3 linked regions of the Homo sapiens genome follow. The protein of the gene in region 1 binds, or shares a complex with, the protein of each later gene. Each region holds a gene or a part of one and is shown on either strand. Other genes may lie near its edges. The genes, in order: GALR1, GAL and GNAO1. A codon is read from its position in the direction of its gene.

Region 1 (10,033 bases):
GCTGCATCTGGGCGCTGTCCATTGCCATGGCCTCGCCCGTGGCCTACCACCAGGGCCTCTTCCACCCGCGCGCCAGCAACCAGACCTTCTGCTGGGAGCAGTGGCCCGACCCTCGCCACAAGAAGGCCTACGTGGTGTGCACCTTCGTCTTCGGCTACCTGCTGCCGCTCCTGCTCATCTGCTTCTGCTATGCCAAGGTGCACGCCGGTCGCGGGGCCGAGACGCGCGAGGGAGGGCGGAGGGCCGGTGGGGGCCCTGGGGTCTCAGTGTCCCGCGGCCCTGCCGGAGCCTTGGCGGCAGCCTGGCCCCGGTGGTCCCCACTCTGGCGGCGCTGGTACGGATCTGTGCAGAGAGGCTTCCTGGCCGCTGCTGGAGCGTGCCATTGGCTTGCGCAAGAAAGTTACTTGGAGTCTGAGAGATGCTGGGGAAAGTTTGCAGTTCACTTCGCATGGTCCAGTAGAACCAGTTTCTCCTCCCCTCCCCTTCCTCGGCCCTGCGGCCCTTCAACGCCCCCAGGTTGCCTGGGCGGTAGGTAGGCGGGCGCTGCCGCATCCTTCCCGGTACAGCAAACCCCGCTCGGTTCCAGCAACTCTTCAACCAGATCAGCTGCGCGGGGAGGTTACCGCCGCGGCGCTGTGGGACCTGAGGAGAGCTCTGGTGGTCACCAGAGCGCGGACCTTTTGCGAGGGTGACGGGTCCCCACAGCTCCCTCCCGGGCTCTCAGCTGGCCGTGGCGGGGGGGACTCGCGGGGCGGCCCCTCTCCCCCGGGGTGCGCAGTTTGCCCTCGCTCCGAAGGCTTTGCGCACACCGGGCTCTGTGAAGCCGCTGCTCCCGGGGACAGAGCCTCGAATTTTATTTTATTCTGAAGCTTAGCTTTGTAAACCCAAGTGCAAAAGGGTGTTTCTTTACAGAGTCTTGACCGCAGGCTCCAGGAACTTGGAATGGAATGGACTCGAGCTTTCGGCTTCCCCATTTCAATCCTTTTTAGAAAGGTCTCCTGAACAGGGTGAAGTGGTTGAGGCGGCGGGTCTTCACCCTAACTGTAGCAGAGGCACCGTCCACGCGTGTGGGAGATAGTTTTTCCCTTTGTACAGCCGGGCAGAGCTCAGCACTCACATTCTTTTTCTCATTAAGTCCACAAGGGTTTGAAGACTTTATACTGATCAAAACGTCTTCAGCCTTTGACATACGTGTTTTTATTTGCGTAAACGGGAGCTTATTTTAATAATCAGGTGATGGCGATTCACCGGGTAAACCCTAATGTGCGCAACCTCCTCGCTCCAGAGCATCGCCATTTGAAATACAGCTGTTACCAGTTCCACCCGACTTCACCGCTGTCTCTCATTCTGTTTCAATAAGGCTGTGACTATACGACCACAAATAACCTGACTAGGTAGAACAACTATCACTTTTAATACTCAAGTCACAAGGTATTTTTATCAACAAAAGTGTTTACTATAAGCCACCTGTTTCCCCCCACCTATTTCATCTAGGTAGATTGTGTCTATTTTGAATAATAATATTGCTGGATATTATCTGAACGGCCTGCACCAAAAGGTTAAATATGAAGAAATACAGTACCACTTTGGGAGGCCGAGGTGGGTGGATCACCTGAGGTCGGGAATTCGAGACCAGCCTGACCAACAGGGTGAAACCCCGTCTCTACTAAAAATACAAATATTAGCTGGGTGTGGTGGCGGGCCCCTGTAGTCCCAGCTACTCCGGAGGCTGAGACAGAAGAATTGTTTGAACCCAAGTGACGGAGGGTGCAGTGAGCCGAAATCGTGCCACTGAACTCTAGCCTGGCTGACAACGGAGCGAGACTCTGTCTCAAAACACCACCACCACCACCACCACCACCATCACCACCACCACCATCACCACCACCACCACCACCACCACCATCACCACCACCACCACCACCACCACCATCACCACCATCACCACCACCATCACCACCATCACCACCATCACCACCACCACCACCACCACCACCACCACCACCATCACCACCATCACCACCACCACCACCACCACCAATATAGTAGCAGTAAGGGAATTTGGAAAAGAACTCTAGCTTAGCTATTTGGAAAATGGCTGGTTTATTAACGTGGTCTTCCGCAGATGCTAAACAAAGGCTATCTTACATAGCACAATTATCTGATATGTGCACCATCTCATTTAATTTGCACAACTCTGTGGCTTGGAGCTATTTTATTATTTACCCGTATTTTATTATTTAAGGAAAAAGAGCTTTGGAAAGGAACACCTGACCCAGATTATGAAGCTGGTGAATGATTCTGGAAGGATTTTAACACAGGGATTCCCAGTCTTCTGAGGACGGGACAGTTGGTGAGGCCTTGAGGACATTGAAGTCTGAGATTGAGATTCTTAACATATATGGCTGTTAAGTTCCTAATTACTGTGGAGAACTGAAGCACACGCTTCCTTATTTCCCCAAAGCCTTCAGGGAGAAGAGCTAAAATCTTCTTACTGGAAATGACAAAGTAAGATTTTAGGAGTAAATTGAATTCAGCATAATATTCATAATATTTGCAAGTTAATTTCAGGGCTGTCATGGATAGGTGGAGATTTCAGTTATTTCAAGTTGATTTTCTTTGGCTCAGGCATTAGGTGTGCACCATCCAGTTAAGGATTTTGCTACTTGAGTATTAGTTTCAGGATTAGCTGTTCCTCCAAACCCCAGGCCTTTTGGATAGCCTGAAAAAACACAGATGGCTAAAAGGGAACCTGAGGTTATGATGCTTTAAATAAACAAAAAAACTTAAGACAATTGCATTCCAGAGTTGCCTTTTGCCTCCAAATTCTCACAAGTTTGTAAGGGAGCAGTCTTTTGCACCAGACAGTTTCTGGGAAACTCATCGAATACATGGGTGGGAGGATGAGTCGAAGTGGTCTGCCCAGTGCCCCCTGAAGAGCCCTCCCCTCTGCTGCTATGGAGCTGTTCTTCACCAGGTCTGTGCCCCTCGCTCACTTCCCTTAGAGTGAATTACTGTCCAGAATCTCCTTGGTCTACCATGAGGATAAACTCAATGGGCCCACTCGACTAAGTTACTCCGAATCCCCAGGATGTAGCCAGCAGGACCTGGGTTTGGTTTGAGCTAGCACCTTCCTGTGCACACTCAGAAATTTACAGACTCACCAAGAGACCCCAGTATGTTATTATCACTCTCTTCTTAAACGTCGTCATACCCTATCATGGTACCTACATTCTTCCTCCTTTGCTGCTGAGACCTTCAGTGGGGTGCATCATAATATATCATTCTGTGCTCATAGTAGGAGCTATTGAAGAGAAGCAGAGCTAATAAAAATAGACTTGAGTATTTTCTCCATTGACCATTTAACAGCATTCAACATTCTTGGGTGTTTTGAAGTGGCTGAGCTGTGATCCGAATTCCTTTTTGGAAGGAACAATTGGAGCTCGGCAGCGTTATGAAGCTGGTCACATTTGGACATTTTGTTGTGATTTGTCCAGGTGTCCCTCTTTGATTTTGCTTGTGCGGCCTCTCCTGTTGTCTCTCCTGTGTCCTCAGTGACCAGTGTTGTCCTGTGGTTTCCCATTGGGAAGGCTGCCACTGAGCCATCTAGGCAGTCCTGTCCTCTTGGGCAGGGTCCTGCCTCCTCCAGCCCTTTCCTTCCCCTTTGAAACGCTCTCATTTGCTCCTGCAGGAAATCCCTGTTCTGTCGTTGCCTTGCATTCAGGTTTTGATACTCCCATTTCGGCTGGTAGAACAGTAAACTAACACCTTGTCAATGTATTGAGTGTTTTCCCAAATGCTCCTGCGGCACGTAAACACTTGTTTTGTTGCAGATGTTGCTGAGTCATTTCAGGAAGTGGGAAGCATTTCGGTAGGGGAGAGAATTTAAAGTCAGAAATTCACGTCCCTGGGGTGGCTGCTTGTTCACCTGCATAGGGCCTGGGCAGCTGGTAAATATATCCTGTGGCTTCCAAGTAAGGTGTGACTAATTGCTCTGAAAGTGCCTCATCTGGCTGAATGGAGCAGGCTTTTGCAATAAGTTCAATTCGATTAAATTATTTCCATGCTACAGGGAACAAAGAACTGGTTGGAACATGGCTTCCGGTTCCTTGAGAGACTTCTCAGCAATCTACAGATGCTCTAAAGCACTTAGTCGCCCTGGGGCTAGATTTTCTCTAGATTTTTCCCTCAGATGGGATATAGCAATGAACTTAAGTGACAGTTCTGCAGGCTTGACAACGTTGTCTAAGACCAAATATATGTTGGAAATTCCTACATCTAAAACCCCACATTTTCATATCATTTCTCCTGAGTATTACACTGGCAAGAAAAGACAAAAATAGTTTCTGTAATTGAGGGAGTCAGTGTGTTTCAAGGAGATTCCCTGACAGGGACATTAATTGTCAAACCTTGCAAAAATGTTCTGTAAATCATCAGTGACGCTGAATCCCCAATAAGTTGTCTGAAAGCACAGCACAGTGGGTAGGATTTGAATAAAGAATGAAAGGAAGCCTGATGGGAGGTGATTTGCCATACGGAGAATTGCAGTGGAGGCAGCCCATAAGAGGAAGGAGAAAGAATATTTTGGCACAAACGCTGGCAATATTTGGGTTGGCTGCACTGAAGAAATGTCTGATGATATTATCTTCATTTGTTTACTTGCCTGCTTTCCGCATCAGATGGTGAATTTTGGAAGGGCAAATCTCTAGTTTTTCGATGCATCCAGGATCTAACTTTGTGCCTGACATGTAGCAGGGACCTGGTGTTTATTAATATATGGGGTCCTGGAAGAAACCAAGGAAGACAATAGTGTAATAAGCACACCTGAGTGGGTCATGGCATGGCTGTTTCTGGGCAAAACCCCAGAGCTCCACGCCCTGGGCATTCTCTGCAAACAGGTGCTATGGCTGTGAACTTGTCTGGCTGTGCATCAGCCTTCCTGGCTGCTCCTAAGTGTTAGAAAAGAATGTATTTGGCAACTCATGTTCATTGTTACCTAATTACCTAATTTGAGTTTTTATTTTAATGATCTTATAAATAGTGATGTTACCATTTCAGCATGTCAATAATTGTTAATGCAACATAGGCAGTGGGTTATGAGAGGTGAGGCGAACTGATTTCAATAGTCTGTGTCTTTCAGGTCCTTAATCACTTGCATAAAAAGTTGAAGAACATGTCAAAGAAGTCTGAAGCATCCAAGAAAAAGGTAATGATCACAAATATATATATATATGTTACTTTTCAGAGCTTAGTTTACCTTTGTTTTTTTTACTTGTCCTCACGTCCATCCAAAGCCTGTAACATTTAGGACCCTTGGTGTGGCTAAGGAGGTTTGAGATGAGCCTCCCACCGTTAGGATGGGAATGGAGGGTCGGCCTTGGCAAGGGCACCGTGGGTCACTCCGTGCTGCATTCAAACTTAGCTGAAGATCTGGGGAGATGAGGAAATGCGGATTCTGCTGATTGTGCGCCTCACCAGGAGGTGAGTGCACTTAGGTTGACTGAGACAGAGTGCAGAGTGCAGAGTTGCTGACATGCATACTTAGAGGGAAAGTATAGTCATTTTGTTTTATGTTTTCAATCTCTGATGTGATTCCGAAAAGCCCTGGTTTGGTTCTTGTTTAAGACAACATTGTTATAATCCCTCCCTAAAGCCACCAGAGTGCTGGGCCATTCTTGCCTCTTTCACCCACATGTGCTGACTCTGACCCGGCAGGTAAAGACTGAAGAGTGGACAAGGCTGAAAGCAGATTCCTCCCGTTGCTAACTGACTTTCTCATCCCCCAGCCCCGATTTAAACAAGCTTCTCCTGAGTGGTATTACAGCATCTAACTTATTGATGGTCATGATATTCTACATTTTGGGGGAAAACTATTTCACAAATCAAGGTTAAATGAACTCTTACTCAGAAAATATCTATATAGCTTCTAATTTTAGGAAGTAGAATGAGATTATTAGGCAATATGACTAAGGAGTAGGAGGTTATAACCAGATATTTTAACCCAAAAGTGTAATAATAACATCTTAAAATACCTTGTTTTTTCCTTATATTTATTATGATCAATGACATACCTAATTTATAGAAATTATAGTTTAGATCATGTTTAATCATGTTTACTTAAAAATTCTACTTGAATAAAGGACAGCTCTTCCTGACTTTCCTTCTTTATGAACAGTAATGTGGCTAAAAAGCCATCTGATAGTCCAGAGTCAAAACCAGTGGTAGAGAATTGGTTATAGAGCACAAACATTAAGACTTTTTTTTTTCCCTGGCAGCAAAAAATTAGCTTATGTTAGAAATGCAATCATACAGTGTTTAGGATAACCACCTAAGAATACAAGGTGCAGTATAAATAACAAGACCATGCTATGGCTTTATTCCATTGATCCTTTCTTACATCTGAACAATTATTATGAATATTTCATTTTAGGCATCTAGGCCCCGCATTAGAGCAGCTGACCAAGTGCTAAGTTATATGAATGGAATAAACCCTGTAAGTTGGTGCTTTCCTCCTCTCTTTTTAGTGATGTGCTGTTATGGTAGAGATTTTCCATTTTTCTGGTATATCTATTGATTTTTCCTCTGAGTCACACTTCTTATTTCTAAGACAATGGTTCTTTAAAGACAATTAAGGATAGTTTCTGACTTCTCCTAGGACAGTTATTTTTAGAGCACCTGCTCTGTGTAGGACCAAGCCGATCCAGGGGATTCTAAGAGGAACTGGCTCCGCATGGAAGCCAACATTGTAATGGAAGAGATCAATGTGTGAGTCCCAGAGGCCTGTTCAAGGGGGCAGTGTTTGGAGCATCAGGGAAGGGAGAGATTAATTTCCCTTGGGAGGGATTGGGCTCGTCAAACTTTAACTGAGAAGACACCATTGATCTGTGATAAATGTGTGTTAATGATTCAAAAGATTTTATGCTTACCAAAAGAAATAAAACCAAACATTTATTTAACATTTGCTGAATCTTACTTGTGTCGATGGTAGTTTTAGTCTCCATATTTGAAAAAGTATTGGAGAGAAATTGTGAAGGTCTCAGAGAAGAACAAAATACTGAAAAAATAGGTCTTATAAAAATGATTAGAAAAGCTTCTATTTTATTTTACAATAAAAAACCTAAAGATCAGTGATTAGTTCAGTCATTAGTTATATACACATACACATATATACACAAATATTTAGATTTATGTGAGTATATGTATATATAATACATATGTGCTTACATATATACATATACTAAATATATCTATATAAAATTATCTTTTGCTTATTCTTACCATGAGGATCTAGCATTTGAAGAAGGGATGAAGATTTTCTTTTTCGTTTTCACAGCCTCTGACCCTTAACAGCTACTGAACAGATGTCAGATCTTTGTTGATGTATTTAATTGCCTCCTTGTTTGCACAGAATAAATAAATGTGGTGGTGGTGGTGGTGATGATGGTGGTGGTATTGGTGGTGGTGATGGTGGTGGGTGGTAGTGGTGGTGATGATGGTGATCATTGTGGTGATGGTGGCGATTGTGGTGGTGATGGTGGTGGTCATAGTGGGGGTGGTGGTGGTCATGGTGGTGATGGTGGTGGTCATGGTGGTGATGGTGGTGGTGGTGATGGTGGTGATGGTGGTGGTGGTCATAGTGGTGGTGGTGGTGGTCATGGTGGTGATGGTGATGGTGGTGGTGGTCATGTGATGGTGGTGCTGGTGATGGTGGTGATGGTGATGATGGTTATGGTGGTGATGATGGCAATTGTGATAGTGATGGTGGTGGTGGTGGTGGTGATGGTGGTGGTGGTCATAGTGGTGGTGGTGCTGGTGATGGTGGTGATGGTGGTGGTGATGGTGGTGGTGATGGTGGTGATGATGGTGGTCATAGTGGTGATGGTGGTGGGCGGTAGTGGTGGTGATGATGGTCATGGTGGTGATGATGGTGGTCATGGTGGTCATGGTGGCGATTGTGGTGATGGTGGTGGATGGTGGTGGTGGTCACAGTGGTGGTGGTGTTGGTGTTGGTGGTGGTCATGATGGTCATGGTGGTGATGATGGTGGTCATGGTGGTCATGGTGGCGATTGTGGTGATGGTGGTGGATGGTGGTGGTCACAGTGGTGGTGGTGTTGGTGGTGGTCATGGTGGTCATGGTGGTGATGATGGTGGTGATGATGGTGGTGATGATGGTGGTGATGATGGTGGTCATGGTGGCGATTGTGGTGATGGTGGTGGATGGTGGTGGTGGTCACAGTGGTGGTGGTGTTGGTGTTGGTGGTGGTCATGGTGGTCATGGTGGTGATGATGGTGGTGATGATGGTGGTCATGGTGGCGATTGTGGTGATGGTGGTGGATGGTGGTGGTGGTCACAGTGGTGGTGGTGTTGGTGTTGGTGGTGGTCATGGTGGTTATGGTGGTGATGATGGTCATGGTGGTGATGATGGTGATCATGGTGGTGATGGTGGTGATGGTGGCGATTGTGATGGTGATGGTGGTGGTGGTGATGGTGGTGGGTAGTGATGGTGGTGGTGGTCATAGGGGTGGTGGTGATGGTGGTGATGATGGTGGTCATGGCAGTGATGGTGATGGTGGCGATTGTGATGGTGATGGTGGTGGTGGCGATGGTGCCAGTGGTGGTGGTGACAGTGGTGGCAGTGGTGGTGGTGGCAATAGTGATGATGATGGTGGCAATTGTGGTGATGGTGGTGATGGTAATGGTGGTGGTGGTATGTGTGTGTCTAAGAAAGAGATGGGAGAGAGGAGCAGAGAAAGGGTAAGAAGAGGGTGTGGAAGCAGAGGCGTGATGAGAAGGGAGGTGGCGGAGAGAGGGGGACAGAGGCAGGAGAGGTGAGACAGGGGAGACTCGGGAAGGAAAGCAAGAATACATGGCAACTTCCCTGAAGACAGGAACTGGGTTGGTCCATCGTGGGTATTTCCCCAGGTCTCAGCACAGAAAATTGCTACTGGTGCACACGTGTTCATCATTTGATTGGTAATGGAAGATGTGACAGGGATTTGGCTACTTGTTTCCAGCCCTTTCTCTCAATGTATAAGTAAAGTTCCCTTTCTCAGCTCTGTATCCACTGGTCTTAGTACGTTCAGGCTGCTTTAAGAAAATACCATAGTCTGGGTGGCTCATAAACAATGGAAGTTTATTTCTTGCAGTCCTGAAGCTTGGAAGCCTGAAATCAAGCTCCTGCAGATTCAGTGTTTGGTGAGGGCCGTTTTCTGGTTCATAGATGGCCCCTTCTCTCTGTATCCTCACAGAGTGGAAGGTGAAAGGCAGCTCTCTGCGCCCTCTTTCATAAGGGGACTGGTCCCATTATTCATAGGGTGGGAGGTGTAAGGCAGCTCTCTGGGCCTCTTTCAAAAGGGCACTAGTCTCTGTGTCCTCATAGGGTGGGAGGTGTGAGGCAGCTCTCTAGGCCCCCATTCATAAGGGCACGGATCCCATTATGAGGGCTCCCCCCACCTCATGACCTAATTACCATCCAAAAGCCCCACCTGTTAATACCATCACCTTGGTGATTAGGTTCCAATTTATGAATTTTTTGGACGGGGTGGGGACATAAACTTTGAGATGGTGCCGCCGTCCATACGGGGCTTTCCTGTTGAGAGTTATAATTATTATGGGGTGGGGAGATTGGTCTTTCATGATAAACATGCTAACAGTTATTCTCCATGTTTGGAGCAAGTGCAAAAGAAGAATAGGATTTCTACTGCAGGAATAAAGGGCTAGGATTGATCACATGCTTTTCTTAAACTCTGCTAGACATAAAGAAATGTTTCTGGCTCAAAGCTGATTGTTAAAACCTTGGAAGACCTCAAAATGGGATAGACACCCATACTGGATGGTTGCTTCCTGGAGAAAATTGGATTAAAGGACCTCTTGATGTCCTATCAAGCCACTGGGTTCTTTTAATGTTTGCTTTTTTTGTTGTTTCTTTGGCTTAAAGTAATTCAGTAAGGTTTTTGGATGTCATTTATACAATTTGTGAGGTTTTTTTTTTTTTTATCATTCTCACCTTTTATTCAGTTCTTTTCTCCCCA
Region 2 (10,512 bases), on another chromosome or scaffold:
GAGAGAGAAAGAGGGAGGAAGAAAAAGGAAGGAAGGAAGAGAAAGAAGAAAGAAAGAAAAGAGAGAAGAGAAAGAAAAGACAGAGAAAAAAGAAAAGAGAAAAGGTTTAGGACGGTTCACAAAGAACTTGGCCTGTAGTATACCTCTGCCCTAAAAGGTACAGCAGTTGTCACCGTGTGAATAGATATGGTTCCAGTAGAATGAGCTGCACCCTGAGGCCCACTCTCTTCCTGGGACCAGCGCTGGCCCGATGGCCCTCCACGACGGTAGAATGCCCCTGCCGCAATCCCAGCCCTCTGGAGCTAGCTCTAGTGTTACATTCTCTGTTATCCCGACACACAGCCAAACAGGACTTTGTACGTAGATAAGTAATCGGCTACTTCCCAGGGGGATTCTATGGGTTCTCTTCTCGATGGGCCTTTTACGTTTCCAGTGTACTAAGAGATGAATGTTAAGTTGATGATATTTCACATACCTTTGAGATGCAAGAAAGACAGAAACTCAATGATTGTGCGCATGATATTGTTTTCAGGTATGGACCTGTCAAAGCTTCCTAGAAGAGAAAAGATCAACATTCACGACTTGTGCAGAGGGTGCTTCAGTGTCTCAGGTCATCCCCCTCCCTACAGAGGAGCTGGGCGCTGCAAGGTCAATGATCTGATCCCAGCAGCCTGAGGCCCTGCTGTGCTTTCCAAGGCCCTTGTTCAATGTGAGGGAGTTGGGGAGATATCCAGTTCGAGGCCTCGCTTTTCTTCTTCTTCTTCTTTTTAATTGAGATGGAGTCTCACTCTGTTGCCTAGGCTGGAATGCAGTGTCATGATCTTGGCTCACTGCAACCTCCGCCTCCCAGGTTCAAGTGATTCTCGAGCCTCTGCCTCCCAAGTAGCTGGGATGACAGGCACCCACCACCACGCCTGGCTAATTTTTATATTTTTGGTAGAGACAGGGTTTTGCCATGTTGGCCAGGCTGGTCTTGAACTCCAGACCTCAGGTGATCCACCCGCATCAGCCTCCCAGAGTGCTGGGATTACAGGCAGGAGCCATCGTGCCCAGTCCCGCTCTTCTGGAGGCCCTGGTGCCTGGGCAGCCTCCCAGCCTAGAAGGACCCCTTGCTGTCTCGGGTTTGCACGTTCTGTTTGCAGCTGCTGACAGGTGTGGCGAGGCCACATCGTCTTAGTCAAGTCATGGCCAGGCTTGGGCTGCAGCTGTGGACAGCCCCGACACCCACAGCTGTCCCCTGCATGCACCTGGGAGCTGGTGGAAGTGAGGTGCCCCGGGGCCCGGGATAGGAGTCCTCTCACCTGGTTTCATGTCATCTTCGGGCCGCAGCTCCCGCTTGCTGGTGAGGCCATTCTTGTCGCTGAATGACCTGTGGTTGCCAACGGCATCTGTTTGCAGATCAGAGAGGAAAGCCTCTGGGTGTGACTGTCATGCACGCCCTCCCCACACCCAAAGAAGGACACAGGGCTGCCTGTAGCCAACACACACACGCAACTCGACTGTGAAATAGAGCCCAGGGACAGACACCAGAGCAGAGGGAGCGATTCTCCACCCAGCTGAGGTAAGAGCTTGGCCGCTCACACCAGGGTCAAAGGGAATGTGAGGGTTTGCACAGGGTGGGTGGGAGAAAGGGAGGTGTGGCTCCTGAAGTGGGGGAGAGGCCCAGAACCTGCCCTGTTGCAGGGGTTGCGCCTGGGTCCAGAGGAGCTGGCATCTGAGCTGGCACTGAGCTGGCATCAAACTGGGTGACTCCCTGGCAGACAACAGGAGCTGGGTCCTCATGTCCCTGAAAGCATGGGGGACGCTGAAGAGTTTAAGTTGTGACTGAATCTGATTTTTATTTTCACTCTGGCAGCTGTGTGCAAGATGGACTGGAGCCAGAGAGAGAGAAGGAGAGAGACAGAGGGAGCGAGAGGGTCACAGAGGGAGACAGGATGGGGGTGGGGGGTGCAGGAGCGTGTGTGCGTTCCCGTGTGTGTGTGGGTGTGTTTCGTGGTGCGAAAATGGAGGAACTGTGATTGCAAGCACAGAGATCCCAGAATTCCAGGGAAGAAACGATGAAGGCTGTAAACCAAGAGGCGTGGGGTGAAGAGGAGGGCTGGATTTGGGGCTGTGCAGGAAAGGAAATGGAAATGAGAGATGGGGACGAGGGTGAGGACGCCTCTGTGTTTCCAGCTGGTTGGCCTGGGTGGACTGTGCCATCTACAAGGCCAGACAAAGGAGAATTAACGCGTATTTCCAGAGATGCCGTTCTTGGTGCTAAATTTATAGAGGAATCATAGGTCGCCTCATGTCACTGATGCACCCTCAGCCACGGCCACACTGCGTTCAGCAGCAGCTGGTGCAAAAACATTGCTTTTGCTGCATTTCTAGCAGATCCTAGAAATCAAAGGCACATTTTTAAGTATTTTGACAAACAACTCGTCTAGCTACAGCTGAACAGGGCCGTAAAATTGATGGCGAAAATGAGTTTGTTTTCTAATTAGGGGTCAAACTCTTCTTGACAAATAGATTTTCAATATTCCAAAGCAACACAGATAAATGTTCTCATTGACCAGTTCTGCCTTTGTTTTGGGCCCGTAGCACACAAAGATGAGGTGCCCTCTGAGTGGCAGAGCTCAGGGTTGCAAAGGGTTGAGGAAATCAGCCGACCCTCAGGCAGGTCAGGCCACTCCATGGGCAGGGAGAGGATGAGAGGGCCGCACAGAGACCAGCAGGCTCTGTGGTGAACAGCCTGGACCGATCCGCACGCGGCCTCAGGCGGCTCTGTCATCCCCGTGTCTGTTTCTTAAAGCCTGACTCTGGGGGTCCTCTGAGTGACCCCGATAAACAAGCGTCTGCAGGAGGAGGAAGCTGTATTCGACTCTGGGACTGAGAACTAAGTCAGCTTTCCTTGGCATGGGGAGAAGAGCACCATTCTCCCCATTTGCTGCTCCGCGGGGCTCAGATAGGCCCTGCGTGCTGTTCACATCCTTCCTCTGGCAGAAGGCAGTACAGGGAGGCTTTTAAGGTGGATGGTGAGGTGTGGAGGGGAAGGTGAGTTACAGGAGGGAACCAAGGCCTCCTCTTGTCCCCTCCTTTGGAGGAAAGTCAGAAGGCATTGCTGCACAGACCAAGGATGTGGAGAAAGTAGAGGCCTGGGACAGGGGCGGGGGCGGACACGGGGAGGTGTCAGCCTGCAGTGTCCCATCTAGGGCTAGGGCTCACCTCAGGCAGCAGGGGACACCGCTGACACAGGTGACAACAACAGGACAGGGAGAGGGAGGGGACACAGGCTTGGGCAGGCAGGGTCACCTGAACCTTGTTTTGAGGGGAGCCTGTCTGGGCTGCCTTCAGGCGATCTGGCAATTCCCGTGTGGAGCTTGGAGAAAGGGAAGAGGGAGGCAGGATTTGGGGTCCGCTGACCTAGGGTGCTCTGCAAGCCGAGGAGTTGAGTGTTTTGGGAGACCCGGGGGCCTGGGGAGAGGCCCAGAACAGGGCCTGTAAGGACTGCAAGGCGGGAAAGCCCAGGAGAACTTGAGCAAAGCCCAGGGTGGGAATCTCACCCCGGGACAGGGCGGCAGAGCCGGGGCAGGAGAAGCTTCTGGAAAGAACCGTACACAGATCAAGTGTGCAGAGCAATGGAGACGGGCAATGAGGTCAAGAGGGAGGCCAGAGGGTCTGCCCAGCCGCAGGCGGAGGGGCAGGAGCCAGGGTTCAAAGCGAGGGGCAGGTGGGGTCAGGAGTGGGGAGGCCATGCTGTCAGTCACTTACGTGGGCCCAGCAGGTAGCCCGCGCTGTTCAGGGTCCAGCCTCGTTTTTCCTTGGCCTTGAAGGGAGAAAAGGGGATCAGATGCCAGGGCTGTGCCTGGAGCCTATGCTGAATGGGTGCACCCAGGCTTTCCCGGCATGGCAGAGGACTTAGAACAATGCATGTGCTTTTGGATAGCTCGCGAAATTCCAGGTTTACCCCTAAGTCGGCTATATTTGACATGAAAATGGAACCACTTTATTTACGAAATACTTCACTTGAGGGCCTGAGCCCGCGCACTCTCAGCGCACTGCACCTGCTTTAGTGACGCTGAGGCCACGCCAGTGGCTCCTAGCCCTCCATTCTAACTAAGCCCTGCGGAACGGGCGAGCTTCTCGCTTTCCCGAGGCGCTGACCCGAAGCGCAGAGCTCTCCCGGCGGCCTGGTTATAGCCCGGGGCTGTTGATACACTCGGAGAAGCGCGCGGGGGGAATCCCAGGGAGCCCCGGACCCTTCCCGCGACGCCCGCAGCCAGGACAGCGCCCGCCTTTCCACTTTCCACCCCCATCCCCGCGGGCAGGGCGGAGGCTGCCTCCTCCAGGAAGCCCTCCACGCCCGGCCGGCTCTGATGTCCCCTTCGCTCGGAGGAGACGCGCCCCGCACTTACCGGCGACCAGAGCCCCGCAGAGGCAGAAAGGGCCGCGGCGAGGAGGAGGGAGGCGAGCAGGAGGGCGCTGCCTCGGGCCATCTGGAAGGGAAGGACAGGGCGGGCGGGTCGGAACCCGGAGTGGGCTGCGCCCCGAGGCAAGGAGTGCCGGGGCTGCGGGGAGGAGCAGAGGCGGCGGCCGGGCCAGGGCCCTGGCAGAACCGTCCCTGGGCAGAGGAAAGCCGAAGGGGAGGCCTCCCGGGGGCGCAGGGTCGGCCCGGCGCCAGTAGTACCTTGAGCTGCGGCTGCGCCCGGGTTCGGAGCGTCGGGGTCCGGGTGCGGTGGCGGGTCTGGGCGGCAGGTCCGGGCGTCGGGCCGGGTCGGGTGGGCTCTGGCGGCCTGGGGCGCTCACCGCATGGCGCGGCCGGCAGCAGGGGCAGAAGGCGCGGGCCGGGTCCCTCCACGTGTCCGCCGCCCGGTGTGGCCGCCGCCACCGCCGCCGCTGCTATATATGCGGCGCACCCGGGAGCCGCCCGGAGTCGCGTCACCGGCTCAGCGCCCGCCTCCTGCACCCTCGCCGAGCCCCGAGGGCGACGGGAGTGACCCGAGCTCGGGTCCTCTGGGCCATCATAGGCGGGTGCGGCGGAGAGCCCCCCCTCATCCCGCGGGAGAGACTCCCCCAAATCTGCAGAGAGAACCCCAAACCCTGTGGGAGAGACCCTAATCCCGAAAGACAGAGCCCAATCGCCCCGCGGGAGAGCCCCCAGACCCGTGGCCCAAGTCATCGCTGTGGCGTCAACCCCACTGCTCCCCCCGGGGTCCCAGCCCCAGAGCAAGCCTGACCCCCCACAACGTCCCACGCCTGCGGTCTCCCTGCAGCTTCTCCTCCCAGCCCCTACCGCTGCAAAAGCCAGCTGAGCTCCGCAGCACTGGAGACCCCAGAGGGTGACGGGCAGGGACGACTCCTCAGTCCGAGCCAGCCCCAGCTGGGAGGTCATGGGGTACCCGGGGAATGGCGGGCAACACTTGGCCCTGCGCCCTGGCCGGCTTGTGCTGGGGCTGGAGCGAAGGTTCAGGCCTCGGGAGCCGTCGATGGCGGGGAGGGCAGGCGTTCCCGGCTCCCTGTGCCCAGCGACCTCCCTCCTGTTTCACTAAAGGGGGGCTGTGGATCTCAGGGTCTGCTTGGCCATCCCATTGTGGGAGCTGCGGGACCGTCGAGCATCCACAGGCACCAGCTCAGAAGCTCGGCCTCTCAGTGCCTCCCCTGGCTGCCTGGTCCAGTTGTAAGAGGGAGCTTTAAGCAGGTCCAGCCATTGGGCAACTGGTTAGGTCCAGAGGGAGAGCAGCCCAGACTCCCAGAGGCCGCCAAGGGGTGGGCGGTGGGCAGAGCAGCAGCAAGAGGCTGTCCTTGTGCCCAAGGCAAAGACATCCCACAGGAACAAGGCCCTCCTTGGCTCCTCCACAAACCCTTCCTGAGCTGGGGCCAAGTCCCGAAACAACCCAGGAGAGAACCCAAGCCTAGGCTGTTCCTTCACCCCATTCCCAGGCATCAGGGGAGCACAGGATCCCAGGCATCACACTTGTACAGTGTGGCACCTCCGGGCTTCCGAAGAGCACGGGGTCATCTGCTGAAAACTCGCCTGACCTCCCCTCCCACTGGCCAGACACCACCCAAGTCCTCAACAGCAGCAGCTGGGTTAGGATCTCCCCACCCACTGGGCTCAATATCAGATGGGTTGATGTCACATCTGTGGGTTGATGTCCACAGGGCACAGGACGAATGATGATCATGACAGTGTCATCTTACCTGTCCTCTACACTTTAGTCTTGGGAACCTTTGCACAGACAGCTACAGGCTGCCCCCAGGAGAGATCCGTCTGCCTCCACGTGGCTGGGGAAGGACAACTGGGCTTTCAAGAACTCTGGCGAAGGCCAGCGGCTGCTGGAGAAGGTGCAGGGCTGCAGCCTGGTGGCTGAGTGTCTGCTGTGGTTTATGGGAGGAAGAGGAGGAGACAGGACTTGGGGAGGGGTCTTAGGAACAGACTCCTGGCACGACAGTGGTGAGGGGTGGGGTGTTCCCAAGGGCACAGTTTGACTTCTGGTCATCCCTATTTCTTGCAGCCTGGGGAGAGGAGAGTCAGGCACAGGGGACCCTAACTAGGACTCACAGGCTGATTTCGGAGCCCACAGTAAACCCTGAAGTGGTTTCCTGCCGGGAGTGGGGGCGTGGGAGACAGTGAGTCGCCATGAGAGTCTGGGCCAGCCGTGGGCAGAAGGACAGCCGAGAGGCGGAGGAGCAGAGGGCACGTTCCTGTGACTCTGCAGAGAAGTGACAATGATGTCCTCTCATGCCCCATGTCCTTGTGTCTAGATGACATCAGGGAGTGGGCAGGGGCTGGGCTCATGGGTGCCTCTTGGCTACCTGAGAAATACTGCAACCTTTGGCCCCCGGTGGTAGTGGGAGCCCTGCTACCATCCCAGAGCTCTTTCTTGCTTTCTGCTGAGAACAAATCCAGCCCAGTGCATAGCACATCTTAGTCAATTCCAGCCTTCTCCTTTCTTCCACGTTAGGCCCCCTTCCAAATCCTGCCAGAGCTTGACTACACTTATTTTCTCTATTTACTTTGTCACAGAGGCTCTTAGTCTGTTTAAAGGAGCACAAACTCTAAACCTAAATCCTTGAGATGGATTCGAAAAGAGACTCAAAGTCCATCCCTTAGTCATGGGCTGGAATTTGAGGTACATTAAACTTTCAGCTGTCTTCATTTGGGCCTATGTACTCTTTTTGTTTCCTTTTTTGCTTTCAAAGAAACTTCAGACTGGGCGCAGTGGCTCACGCTTGTAATCCCAGCATTTTGGGAGGCTGAGGTGAGTAGATAGATCACTTGAGCCCTGGAGTCCAAGACCAGCTGGGGCAACATAGCAAGGCCTCATCTCTACTAAAAATAAATAAATAAATATTTTTTAAAAATCAGCCAAGCATGATGGCACGTGCCTGTAGTCCCAGCTACTCAGCTCAGGAGGCTGAGGTGGGAGGATCACCTGAGCCCAGGAGGTTGAGGCTACAGTGAGCCACGATCAAGCCTGCACTCCAGCATAGGCAACAGAGCAAGTCTCTGTCAAGAAAGAAAGAAGGAGGGAGGGAGGGAGAGAGAGAGAGAGAGAGAGAGAAGGGAAGAAGAAGAAAGAAGAAGAAGAAGGAGGAGGACGAGGAGGAGAAGGAGAAGAAGAAAAGAGAAGGAAGGAAAGTGAGGAAAGAGAAAGGAAAAAAAGAAAAATAAATTTCAGGCCGGGTGCGGTGGCTCATGCCTGTAATCCCAGCACTTTGGGAGGCCAAGGCGGGTGGATCACAAGGTCAGGAGATCGAGACCATCCTGGCTAACATGGTGAAACCCCGTCTCTACCAAAAATACAAAAAATTAGCCGGGAGTGGTGGCAGGCGCCTGTGGTCCCAGCTATTTGGGAGGCTGAGGCAGGAGAATGGCGTGAACCCAGGAGGCGGAGCTTGCAGTGAGCCTAGATCGTGCCACTGCACTCCAGCCTGGGTGACAGAGCGAGACTCCGTCTCGAAAAACAAAAAACAAAAAACAAACGAAAAAGAAATTTCAGGGTAGGTTATCTGGTCAGAGCCTCCTTATTAAAAAGACATTAAGCAACTGGAAACAAATCTTCACATGTATTTTGAATTCATTTAAGAAAGCTCCATTGAATAATTAGACACATGTATTCAAAATAAACATGCCCATGCCTGATTCCTCCAGGTCCCTAAGTTCTTTTTCCACGTGGGATGACACCCACCGTCTTGCTTCCCGCTTAGTCTGGGTGAGTGGGTCTCGGTATAAACCCTGGCTGGGACCCTGGCCCGGAAGTGCGGTGACCATGGGAAGGCTACAGACAAGCAAGGCAGTGGCCTGAAGGCGTGCTGGGGTTTCCTGAGGTCGGCAGATTCCTTCAGACAAATGAGGCCAGCACACCTGGGATGACAGACACCTGCCTCCCGGCACAGACTGTGCTGGAACCACAGCCAGTGTGCTAATGGCTCTTTGCTCAGTAATGACCCAATGGCAGTCATTGTCAACCTGTCATCTTGAAGACAGCCCAGTGTGCAGCAGACAAAGTGGGTCACCATTAGAGTAATCGAAATCAAGCAGAAAGCCTGATGTCCCCCGCTGCCTTCGAGCCAGCCCATCTTCCTTAGAAGCGCTGTCCACCACCAGGAAAAACCACCCTGAAGCTGAGAACTCAAGCAAGGGTCAAGGGTCACCTGGGCCATGCCCACTGCACGGGAGCTCAACCGTCCATTGCCTGGCAGTGGAGCTGCAGTGGTGAAATCAGCAGCAGGGTCCCTGCCCTTGCGGAGTTAGACCCTCACGGAGACCCATTACAGTTGGCCCCTCTGTATCTGTGAGTTCCCTGGCTGTGGGTTCAACCCACTATGGACTGGGTCCTTGTAGGTAGGCCTAGGATGGGTTTCTCTGTACGAATACGTACAGACTTTTTTCCTTGTCATTATTTCCTAAACAATACGGTATAACAACTATTCATGTAGCATTTACATTATACTCAGTATTATAAGTAATCTAGAGATGATTTAAAGCATGTGGGAGGGCCATCGCGGTGGCTTATGCCTGTAATCACAACACTTTGGGAGGCCGAGGCGGGCAGATCACTTGAGGTCAGGAGTTCGAGACCAGCCTGGCCAACATGCCAAAACCCTCTCTCTACTACATATACAAAAACTCAGCCAGATGTGGTGGCGGACATCTGTAATCCCAGCTACTCGGGACGCTGAGGCAGGAGAATCACTTGTACAACTGAACCCGGGAGGCAGAGGTTGCAGTGAGCCGAAACGGCGCCACTGCACTCCAGCATCTGGGTGACAGAGTGAGACTTCATCTCAAAAATAAAAAAGTTAAATTAAAAATAAAGCATATGGGAAGATGTGCGTAGGTTATATGCAAATACTATGCCATTTTATATAAGGGACTTGAGCATCCACGGATTTCGGTATTTGCGTGGCCAGGGGTTTCCTGGAACCAACCCACTGTGGACATGGAGGGCCAACTGTATGCAACAAATGGTTATTGTACAAATAACCACCCCATTGTCGTGGGAAGGAGATGCATGGATTAGGGGAGCTGAACCTGACAGGTGAGCAGGACTGACTGGGTACAGAATGAGGTCCAGCACACTCCAGGTGGAGGGGGTTACATGGGTACGCCCCCTTTTTGGTCCTTTTCCATTCCTTCTTCCTGCTGCCTGGAGTGTGGACGTGAAGGCTGGAGGTGGGCAACGAATTTGGACCATGAGGTGATGGCTTCAGGTGACACATCAAGGCCGAGGGAGCCTGGGTCCCAGTGACCCTGAGCCTGGTCCCTGGGCTGCACACTTCCAGGCTTGTTTCACAACAGAGGAGAAGAAGCATCTCTCTTATTTAAGCCAATGGCCCATAGAGGTTTTCCATCACGTGCGGTAGGAATTGTTCCAATCAGTTTCACAGTGGTCAACAAATGTTTGATGAATGAATGAATGAATGAATAAAAACACGTGAGAGGGTACACCACCTCCACCGCTGCTGAGAAGCTCATGTCTGCAAGACGGGCTCATCAGAGGGAGAGGTTTGGACGATAACGTGACGAACGATACCACCTATCAGTCCCACGACCATCTCGTTACTACTCAAGAAATGAGGAAATGGCTCGATGACCTAAAATTGGCATTTCTTTGACCCTGCAAATGTCTGTGTCCTTGATTCCCCCATTCCCTGATTTCCACGCCACCCAGCCCCACTCCAGTAACACAGCAGTCATGAAAAAAGACCCTAGAGTCGCTCCCCTAAAAAAATGAGTAGCTGGCAAAGGATCTGGCTAAGGTGAAAGTTGTATCAATGGATAGAATTATACCATTCTATGAATGAGTTTTTAATATATGTATTCGATTATTCGACAGAACCTTGTTAAATGGGTTCATTATACAGGGTTGTTTCATTCACAGAAACAATTGGGTGCTTTTACTAAGGGGTTAAGGTAGTAGAAATTGGAGTTTCGAGTGCAAGCTGAGAAGGGAGAAGAGGAGGAAGAGCAAGTTTTGGAGGTTTGAGGACATTGGGTAACAGAATGCCATCTTTAAAGCAGCC
Region 3 (7,000 bases), on another chromosome or scaffold:
TGTCCCGGGAGCTGCATGCGTAGCCCTTTTGGCTGTGAATGAGTGCGTGAGGCCAAGACCCCTAAGACCCACTTCCTCAGTCGCCCCCACTCCCTATGGCCTGGAATGGAGGTGATGTCTTTTCCACAGTGACCTGGAGGGGCCCTGACCGAGACTGGACTCTGAAGATGGGTGGCCTGGCCAGTCCCGAACAGTGTCCAGGCATTTGGTCCATAGTCCCCTGTTTGTTGCCATCCTCAGCTACCTGGACAGCCTGGATCGGATTGGGGCCGCCGACTACCAGCCCACCGAGCAGGACATCCTCCGAACCAGGGTCAAAACCACTGGCATCGTAGAAACCCACTTCACATTCAAGAACCTCCACTTCAGGTGAGGCCCAGAGAGGCCCCCAGGCCCTGGCGAGGGCTAAGATGGGACATGCCCAGCCTCTCAGCGCATTGCGTTTACAGCGCCCAAACATCATCCTGCCCCAGGGAACCTGCGGGCTGGGGCAGGCAGCTAGATACTAGAAGGAACCTGTCTGTGTTTCTGCCAAGGTTAGGGGCTGGAGTGAGCAGGGAGGCTTTCTGGAAGAAGATTCCCAGAGTGGGGCTGTGAGGAACAGGGAGGATTTGGACAAGGAGGGGCAGCCTGTCCCTGAGGTGACTTCCAAGGAGGAGGAGGAGGTGGGCTACCAGGGGGCCCTTCCAAGGTCACCTTGGGGGGAGGAGCCAAGAGTGGGGCTGGGTAAGCCCAAGCTACCTCTGTGAGACCCTGAGGACCCAAGTAATCCCAGAGCTGGAAGGAGCAGAGAGAGCTGACCCACCCTCTCCTAGTACGCTTGGGAAGCTGAGGCCTGACAAGAGCAGGGCTTTTCCCAGGCACAGAGCACAGCTAGAACCCAGGGGCTCTGGGGCCTCAGAGCAGGGGCCTGACGGGTGAGCTGGTTCCCAGGGTCCTGCTGCAGCGCTGTGTCCCCACCTGCAGTAACATGCGTGCACTGAGGCCTGCTCCGTCCTGTGGGGAAGAGAGGCCAGCAGAGAAGGGGAGGGCAGGGACCCCTGCTGGGAGAGCTGGATTCTAATATTCCCTGCCTCCCATGTCCCCAACTCCTGCCCGCTCCTGTTCAGACTGAGGGGCCGAGGCTCTGGGCCCAGGAACCCCTAGGCCTCCGCAGATCTGGGGAGCAAAACCTTGGGCAGAGCAGCCCTGAGGGGCCTCTCTTGCCTTCCCAGGCTCCTTGGTCTCTCCTGCTCCCCCACTGGGAGCACAGGATGGGGATCTCAGCTCAACCCAGCCCAGCAAGGCGGGGTCTGAGAATAAGCATTCTGGAGGGGCCACAGAGGCCATCTGCCAACGCCCCTGCATTTCAGATGGGGAGGTGGGATCCAGGGGAGGATCCCCTGATTGATGGAATGAGAACCAGACCCATTCCTTGCTCTGAGCCCACACTAATCTCTGCCTGCAGTCACTCCGTTGTGTCCGGTGGGACCAGAGATCCTTCCCTGTCCCCCTCTGGCAGGCTGTGTGTCAGCAGGCATCCCAGATCTAGGAGGCTACAGGACTCCTCGCTCTGGGGATTGGGGTGGGAGACTGACCTTTTACTTCCAGGACGTAAGTCCCACCTGCCCACAGTCTCTTCCAGAATTTTTGTGCCCCCTCGGGAGTAGAGTCTGAGAGGGGGAAGAGGCCAGGCTCTGATCTGCCAGAAAGGGGCCGTACTGGGCAGAGGTGAGAGCGCCAGCTTTGTCCACAGCCAGACCCAGCTCCACCACAGCTGGACTCTCGCCAGCTTGGGCATGTCCTAAGCCCATGGGTGGCTCACTTCTGCCATCCACATAACAGGTGACATCTCCTGCCTGCCTCCCTCCCAGGCTGGTTTGGAGTTTGCCCAGAGCAAACCCAGGAAGGAATAGACTGAGAGGAGGGTCCTCATGCGAGGAGGACTCTCAGAGGCACTTCCTGGGGGTGGCTCAGGTGCGCCCTCTTAGTAAAATGCTCCTCAGATGCAAGGGCAGGTCTTTGAGTCATGATCTGTGAGCACAGCCAGTCCCAGGACAGACTCCAGGGGTAGTGCCTGGGGATGGCAGTGATCCAGCTGTCTGTCATCACCTGGAGTGACAAGGTCTTCTAGTGAGGGCTTTTAGCAAGGCTCTGAGCACCATGGCCCCCATCCTCTGCCTCTCAGCGTGCTCACAGCTTAATCCCCAGGCAGCCCTCACCTGCCTGGACCCTGCGCCTACCAGCTCCCTGCCTCCTACAGGCTGTTTGACGTCGGAGGCCAGCGATCTGAACGCAAGAAGTGGATCCATTGCTTCGAGGACGTCACGGCCATCATTTTCTGTGTCGCGCTCAGCGGCTATGACCAGGTGCTCCACGAAGACGAAACCACGGTGAGTGGCCTGGGCCCCCCGGGCAGGGGGCAGCGCTGAGGAGACGGCCGCAGGATAGGCCAGCCCTCTGAGCACTGGGCCTCGGGTGCCCACAATGGCTCTGGGGTCCAGCCAGCTGTTGTGGTTAGAGGTTTCCATCATGGACAGGCCGTGCCGGCACTCCACCAATTCTGTATTGCCAAGGCAAATGCCTCATGATGCCAGTGTGGCAGAGCCTGTGTATGCAACCTGATCACACAGAGCCGTGCAGAATGTGCCTCTTCCATAAACTTGGTGGAGTCACAGAGGCCATCAGGCCATAGCAAATTTAAGCAAACCCTAAAAAAACCAGGAGGCAGCCAAGCAAGAATGTACAGGCAACAGAAATAGCAGTCTTAGCCTGACAGCCATCCCTGGGGCACTGGCGTCAGATGCTGCTGAAGCAGCATGGGGCCGGGGATGCTGAGGGAGAGGTGGGGAGGGCCCAGGATGCTGCAGGAGAGTTGCGTGGGGTTGGGGGTGCTGGGGAGCAGTGTGTGGGGCTGATGGGCCAGGAAGGGCAATGGGGATGAGGCATGCTGGTGAGTGACAGTCGTGGCTCTGGGCTCCTTTGCCAAATGCCAGACCAGGCTCCTACCTTCTGTCTTGCGTCACATTCAGCCTAGGGCCTCAGTGAGGGGACATTCCCCTGGGAGAGTGCAGCCTTCCTCTGGGTCTAGTCCTGGCTCTGCTACTCACTGGCTTGCTGCTGAATTTAGGCAGCACCCTTTCTGGCTCAGTTACTATTTTCCATAAAAGGGAGATAATAATAGTACCTGCCTGTGGGGGGCTGTTGGCAGTGGGGTGGGTGATGCGTGTGCAGCGCTCTGGAGCTGTTTCTGGGACAGCAGCGCCAAGCTGGTGGTTGTACAGTTGCTGGTGATTGCCCTGAGCCTGCAGGTCCACTGCGTGGTCCCCTTCTGGGCTGCAGCCCGCCAGGCACCGAGCATGGCCCACAGGGTCACTGGAGACAAGCCCCAACACTCCTGACAGCGGGGCCCATAGGCTATGGGGTCACAGCCTGGCGTCTGTCATCTCCTTCTGTCTGGAACACATGCAAATCCCCCACCCCACGCCTCTGAAGGCTGGCACCGAGGGTTTGAGGTTGGAGGTGGGGCTTGTTGTCATGCTGGGCCTTGAGCGAGGCCTGTCCTCTCTCTGGGTCTGTTTCCTCGTCATTTCTGGCCCAGCTGGTCCACTGGGCTTTGTGAGGATGGGATCAACTTTGGGGTGTGGGCTACGGGGCACAGTGCTATAGGGAGGAGGAGCCGCCGCCCTGAGGGGCTTACACAGAGTGATGGGGCTTTGGGCTGGTGGTGTGGGTAGTCTGGACCCGTTCCGTGTACAGGCTTACCCACCTGACTCTTCCTATTTCAGGCCCACCTGTACCCCTGACTTGGGTTTCTGCTGTAATTGTTCTCAATGGCATCTGCAGGCAGTGATGTCAGTCACCAGCCCAGTCTTGATGCTGAGTGGGGCAAGGGTGGATGCGCTTCCTGGGCCGTGCTTGGACCCAGACTCACTGACCACCCAAAGCCCAGGTCAGCTTCCTGGCCATGTGCCCCTCACAGTGACTACCCAGACATTTCCCACTCCCCACTGCTAGACTCTATGCTATTACGGCCACTGCTCCAACTCCTGGGGTCTGAGCTCCACTTGGCTCATCTTTTTTCCCCCATGTCCACCACGGTTTCAAAGAGAGCAAAGGAGCTAGAAGCAGGAAGCCAGGAGGGCCCTTCCCCCTGGAATCCAGCCTCTCCCTGGACCTGCCCTGCCAGGCCTGTGGATGGCTTCAACCCAAGTCCCAGGCCCACCGGCCATGGGGCTGGGCTCTCGCTCACCTCTGGAAGATGGAAGCAAGGGACGTCTGGGTGAGCCTAGCAGCCACAGGCCCTGAGCTCTGCAGCCCATGGGTCCCCAGTGAGCATGAGCCTGGTGCTGGGCCTGGCACTGGGTGACCTTCCAGCCTGCGGGCCTTGCTGCCTGGAGCACTTGCCCTCCGGTCTTCTCCACCTTCTCTCACCTCCCTTTTTCCCCATTTCCCCCACCCTTCCACACAAGGGCTGGAGCAGAGGACCTTGGAGAAGCCAAAGCAAATGGAGCCAAGGTCACAGGCAGGCTCTTCCTGTGTCCTTCCTTCCCCAAGGCTGGCCACCTTTGCAGCCCGGGGAAGAGTAGCAGCTCGTGCAGGGAATGGGGATGACTTTGCAACCTGACAGCAGCCACAAAGGCAGCTCATTGCCGTGGTGGCAGCAAGAACAATACTGGCGCTGTAGAACTAAGCAGTCATCGCCGTGCGCTGGGGGCGCATGCAGAGGTGGACAGCTTGGGAGTCAGACAGATCTGGTCCAGGGTCTAGCATCACCCCTGCCGCCTGTGTGATCATGGGCAACCGCCCCACCCTGCCCGGGCCTGCACCTCCTCCTCTGTAGATGGTGACAATGGTAGAATGGACCACCGGGCTAAAAGCTGTAAAAGTGCCTGTACACAGGAATCATCACTCAGTGAATAGCTCCTGTGGCTACAACATTCAGATGCCATGGCTAGAGGTCAGGTTCTAGGATGTGGGAGCTCTGTCTGCCTCAGGGAGGCAAGAGCCAGGCCCCAGGAACTCAGGCCTTGGTCCTCAGCCATCCTCTCTGGTCAGCGCTGTGCATCCCTCTCTGGCCTGGGGTGAGAGCCTGCAACAAAGGTGTCTGGAAGCAGCTTCTGGAGCCAGGCCAGGAGAGCCCTGGGGCTAGTGGCTGCCACTGGCCATCCAGCCGCCCTGTCCGCTGCATCCCGGGAGCCCGAGAGCCTGGTCCTGGCCTCGTACCTGCTCTCAGCACCGCCCAGCCGGGCCTGCGGCTGCCACAGCTTCTCCACTACCACGGTCGCCTCCACTGCCTGCAGGGCCTTATCTTGCCAAACCAAGGCCAAAACCAGTTCTGAGAGACCCTCCAAGCCCGGAAGGTATGAAGCACCTCCCTCCAACTGAATCCATCAGCTAAGAGTTGAAAGCAGCAGGTTCTCAGGGCACCGCTGGGTGACTTTGCTGTGATGCCTGCCCAGCCCGCCCCTGCGCCCACACTCCTCTCCAGCCACTTGGCCTGGGCTCATCCCACCCATCCTGCATCTCTTGCCCTGCAATCCACAGGCCCAGGATGGCCATGGCCCCTGTGAGCCCGCACCGGGCTCTCTGCAGGAGCTAGCCAGGATGCCCTGGCCCTGAGACTGGTTGAACCAATTTTTCAGTATTTTTCTCTCTTTCTCTTGTTGGGTTTTTATCTTCTCTGTTTTCATCTGTTTTGCTGTGTTTCATCTTGGGGTTCCTCTGGCCCCTCTACTGAGAAACCAGCCCCAACAACCAGTTCTCCCAGAGCCTCCCCCGCTCCAGCCCACCAACGAGACCACCAACCACACCAAGGCCACAGCAAGCTCACCCCCGAGACGCTATTCCCTGGTGTCTGCTTCCAACTCGGGATTAATTCGAGGATCTCTTAGTCCTCAGTTAATGTTTCCCAACTGAATGCGTGCACCCTTCCAACCTTGCTGTCAAAACCGAATGAGACCCTGGTAGAGAAATCTGCATGAGCAGGGTTCCGCGCAGATGCGTTCGGTGGTGGTTGCGGCCCCTGCGCTGTACGTGCATGGTGCATGTCCTCTCCGTGAGCTGGAGCCTCTCCAGTGACCTCACTGCCCCCACCTGGGGCCAGCTCTCTTTGGAAGGGGGCAGCATCCCCCAACCCTGCCCGGCCCTGCTCCGCCCCGCCCTGCCTGCGTGTGGAATGAAACAGGACCACGTCCCGTCTGTCCTTGTGGGTCCTCCCGTCTCCGTCCTGGTGGTCTCCGTCCCGGTGGTGCATCCAGCCACATTGGTGGACCTTCCCTTTGCTTGTCCCGCTGTGTCATTGGCCGCGGTGGGTCAGGGCCCTGGATGCTGCCGCCCCTCACTCACCCCTCCACTCTGTTGCAGAACCGCATGCACGAATCCCTGAAGCTTTTTGACAGCATCTGCAACAACAAATGGTTCACAGACACGTCCATCATCCTGTTTCTTAACAAGAAGGACATATTTGAAGAGAAGATCAAGAAGTCCCCGCTCACCATCTGCTTTCCTGAATATACAGGTAGAGACCCCTCCAGGGACAGCAGGCCCCCGAGGGAGCGGGCCCCGTTCCCAAAGCCCAGTCCACCCTTCCTGTGCTCTGTGGATGCCCCTGACTCTGCCACAGAGAATCCACACAAACGGTCCCCCACCCTGCCCCCAGATTGTGCTCTAGAGAGGAGGGGCAGCTAGCCGGGGCTTCCTCATCAGGGAAAGCCGGTAGAGCCCTGGCTCTGCCACTTACGAGCTGTGTGACCATGGCGGCCTCTGGGAGCCTGAGCTCCACTGTCTGCGCACAGGGGCTCTCTGTGACGAGACGAGCAAACGCCGAGAAGATGAGGGGCGGGGCACAGAGGCTTGGAGTTAGGCAGCCCAAGGTTTATGCCCCAGCTCCGCCACTCACAAGCAGCTCAGGCAGGTCATGCAGCCTCTCTGAACCTCAGTCTCTGGGTCTGTGAGATGGGGTGATGGCTGTGATTGCCCTCGCCTCCCTCACCAGGTGCTATGAAGAGGGAATGAGCTG

Evidence for each region.
Region 2: the proteins of GALR1 (region 1) and GAL are in contact, whole or in part, in a cryo-EM structure (PDB 7WQ3), measured with the Homo sapiens proteins. Residues at the interface, in NP_001471.2 of Homo sapiens: Glu32, Gln92, Thr94, Val95, Tyr96, Leu98, Pro99, Thr100, His112, Gln174, Phe177, Arg180, Gln184, Phe186, Cys187, Trp188, Glu189, Gln190, Ile266, His267, Ala270, Phe275, Leu277, Ser281, Phe282, Arg285; in NP_057057.2 of Homo sapiens: Gly33 (codon at 3,793), Trp34 (codon at 3,790), Leu36 (codon at 3,784), Asn37 (codon at 3,781), Ser38 (codon at 3,778), Gly40 (codon at 3,772), Tyr41 (codon at 3,769), Leu42 (codon at 3,766), Leu43 (codon at 3,763), Gly44 (codon at 3,760), Pro45 (codon at 3,757), Val48.
Region 3: the proteins of GALR1 (region 1) and GNAO1 are in contact, whole or in part, in a cryo-EM structure (PDB 7XJJ), measured with the Homo sapiens proteins. Residues at the interface, in NP_001471.2 of Homo sapiens: Thr70, Arg133, Ala136, Ile137, Ser140, Arg141, His226 (codon at 5,150), Leu227 (codon at 5,153), Leu231 (codon at 5,165), Asn233 (codon at 5,171), Ser235 (codon at 5,177), Lys236 (codon at 5,180), Lys237 (codon at 5,183), Ser238 (codon at 5,186), Ala240 (codon at 5,192), Ser241 (codon at 5,195), Lys244 (codon at 5,204), Thr245, Thr248, Leu306, Ser307, Glu308, Asn309; in NP_066268.1 of Homo sapiens: Ser264, Asn316, Glu318, Tyr320, Asp337, Asp341, Ile343, Ile344, Ala345, Asn347, Leu348, Arg349, Gly350, Cys351, Gly352, Leu353, Tyr354.

The regions. Positions count from the first base shown.
Region 1 is NC_000018.10:77,251,018-77,261,050, forward strand, and holds part of GALR1 (galanin receptor type 1), read left to right. Parts: coding exon 1-197; exon of another isoform or gene 198-434; intron 435-5,140; coding exon 5,141-5,206; intron 5,207-10,033. UniProt on the Homo sapiens protein: Receptor for the hormone galanin. The activity of this receptor is mediated by G proteins that inhibit adenylate cyclase activity.
Region 2 is NC_000011.10:68,678,890-68,689,401, reverse strand, and holds the start of GAL (galanin peptides preproprotein), read right to left. Parts: upstream 4,859-10,512; 5' UTR 4,670-4,858; intron 4,479-4,669; coding exon 4,398-4,478; intron 3,809-4,397; coding exon 3,754-3,808; intron 1,562-3,753; exon of another isoform or gene 1,399-1,561; intron 1,389-1,398; coding exon 1,302-1,388; intron 611-1,301; exon of another isoform or gene 554-610; coding exon 476-553; intron 1-475. UniProt on the Homo sapiens protein: Endocrine hormone of the central and peripheral nervous systems that binds and activates the G protein-coupled receptors GALR1, GALR2, and GALR3.
Region 3 is NC_000016.10:56,334,489-56,341,488, forward strand, and holds part of GNAO1 (guanine nucleotide-binding protein G(o) subunit alpha), read left to right. Parts: intron 1-240; coding exon 241-369; intron 370-2,242; coding exon 2,243-2,372; intron 2,373-6,345; coding exon of another isoform or gene 6,346-6,499; intron 6,500-7,000. UniProt on the Homo sapiens protein: Guanine nucleotide-binding proteins (G proteins) function as transducers downstream of G protein-coupled receptors (GPCRs) in numerous signaling cascades.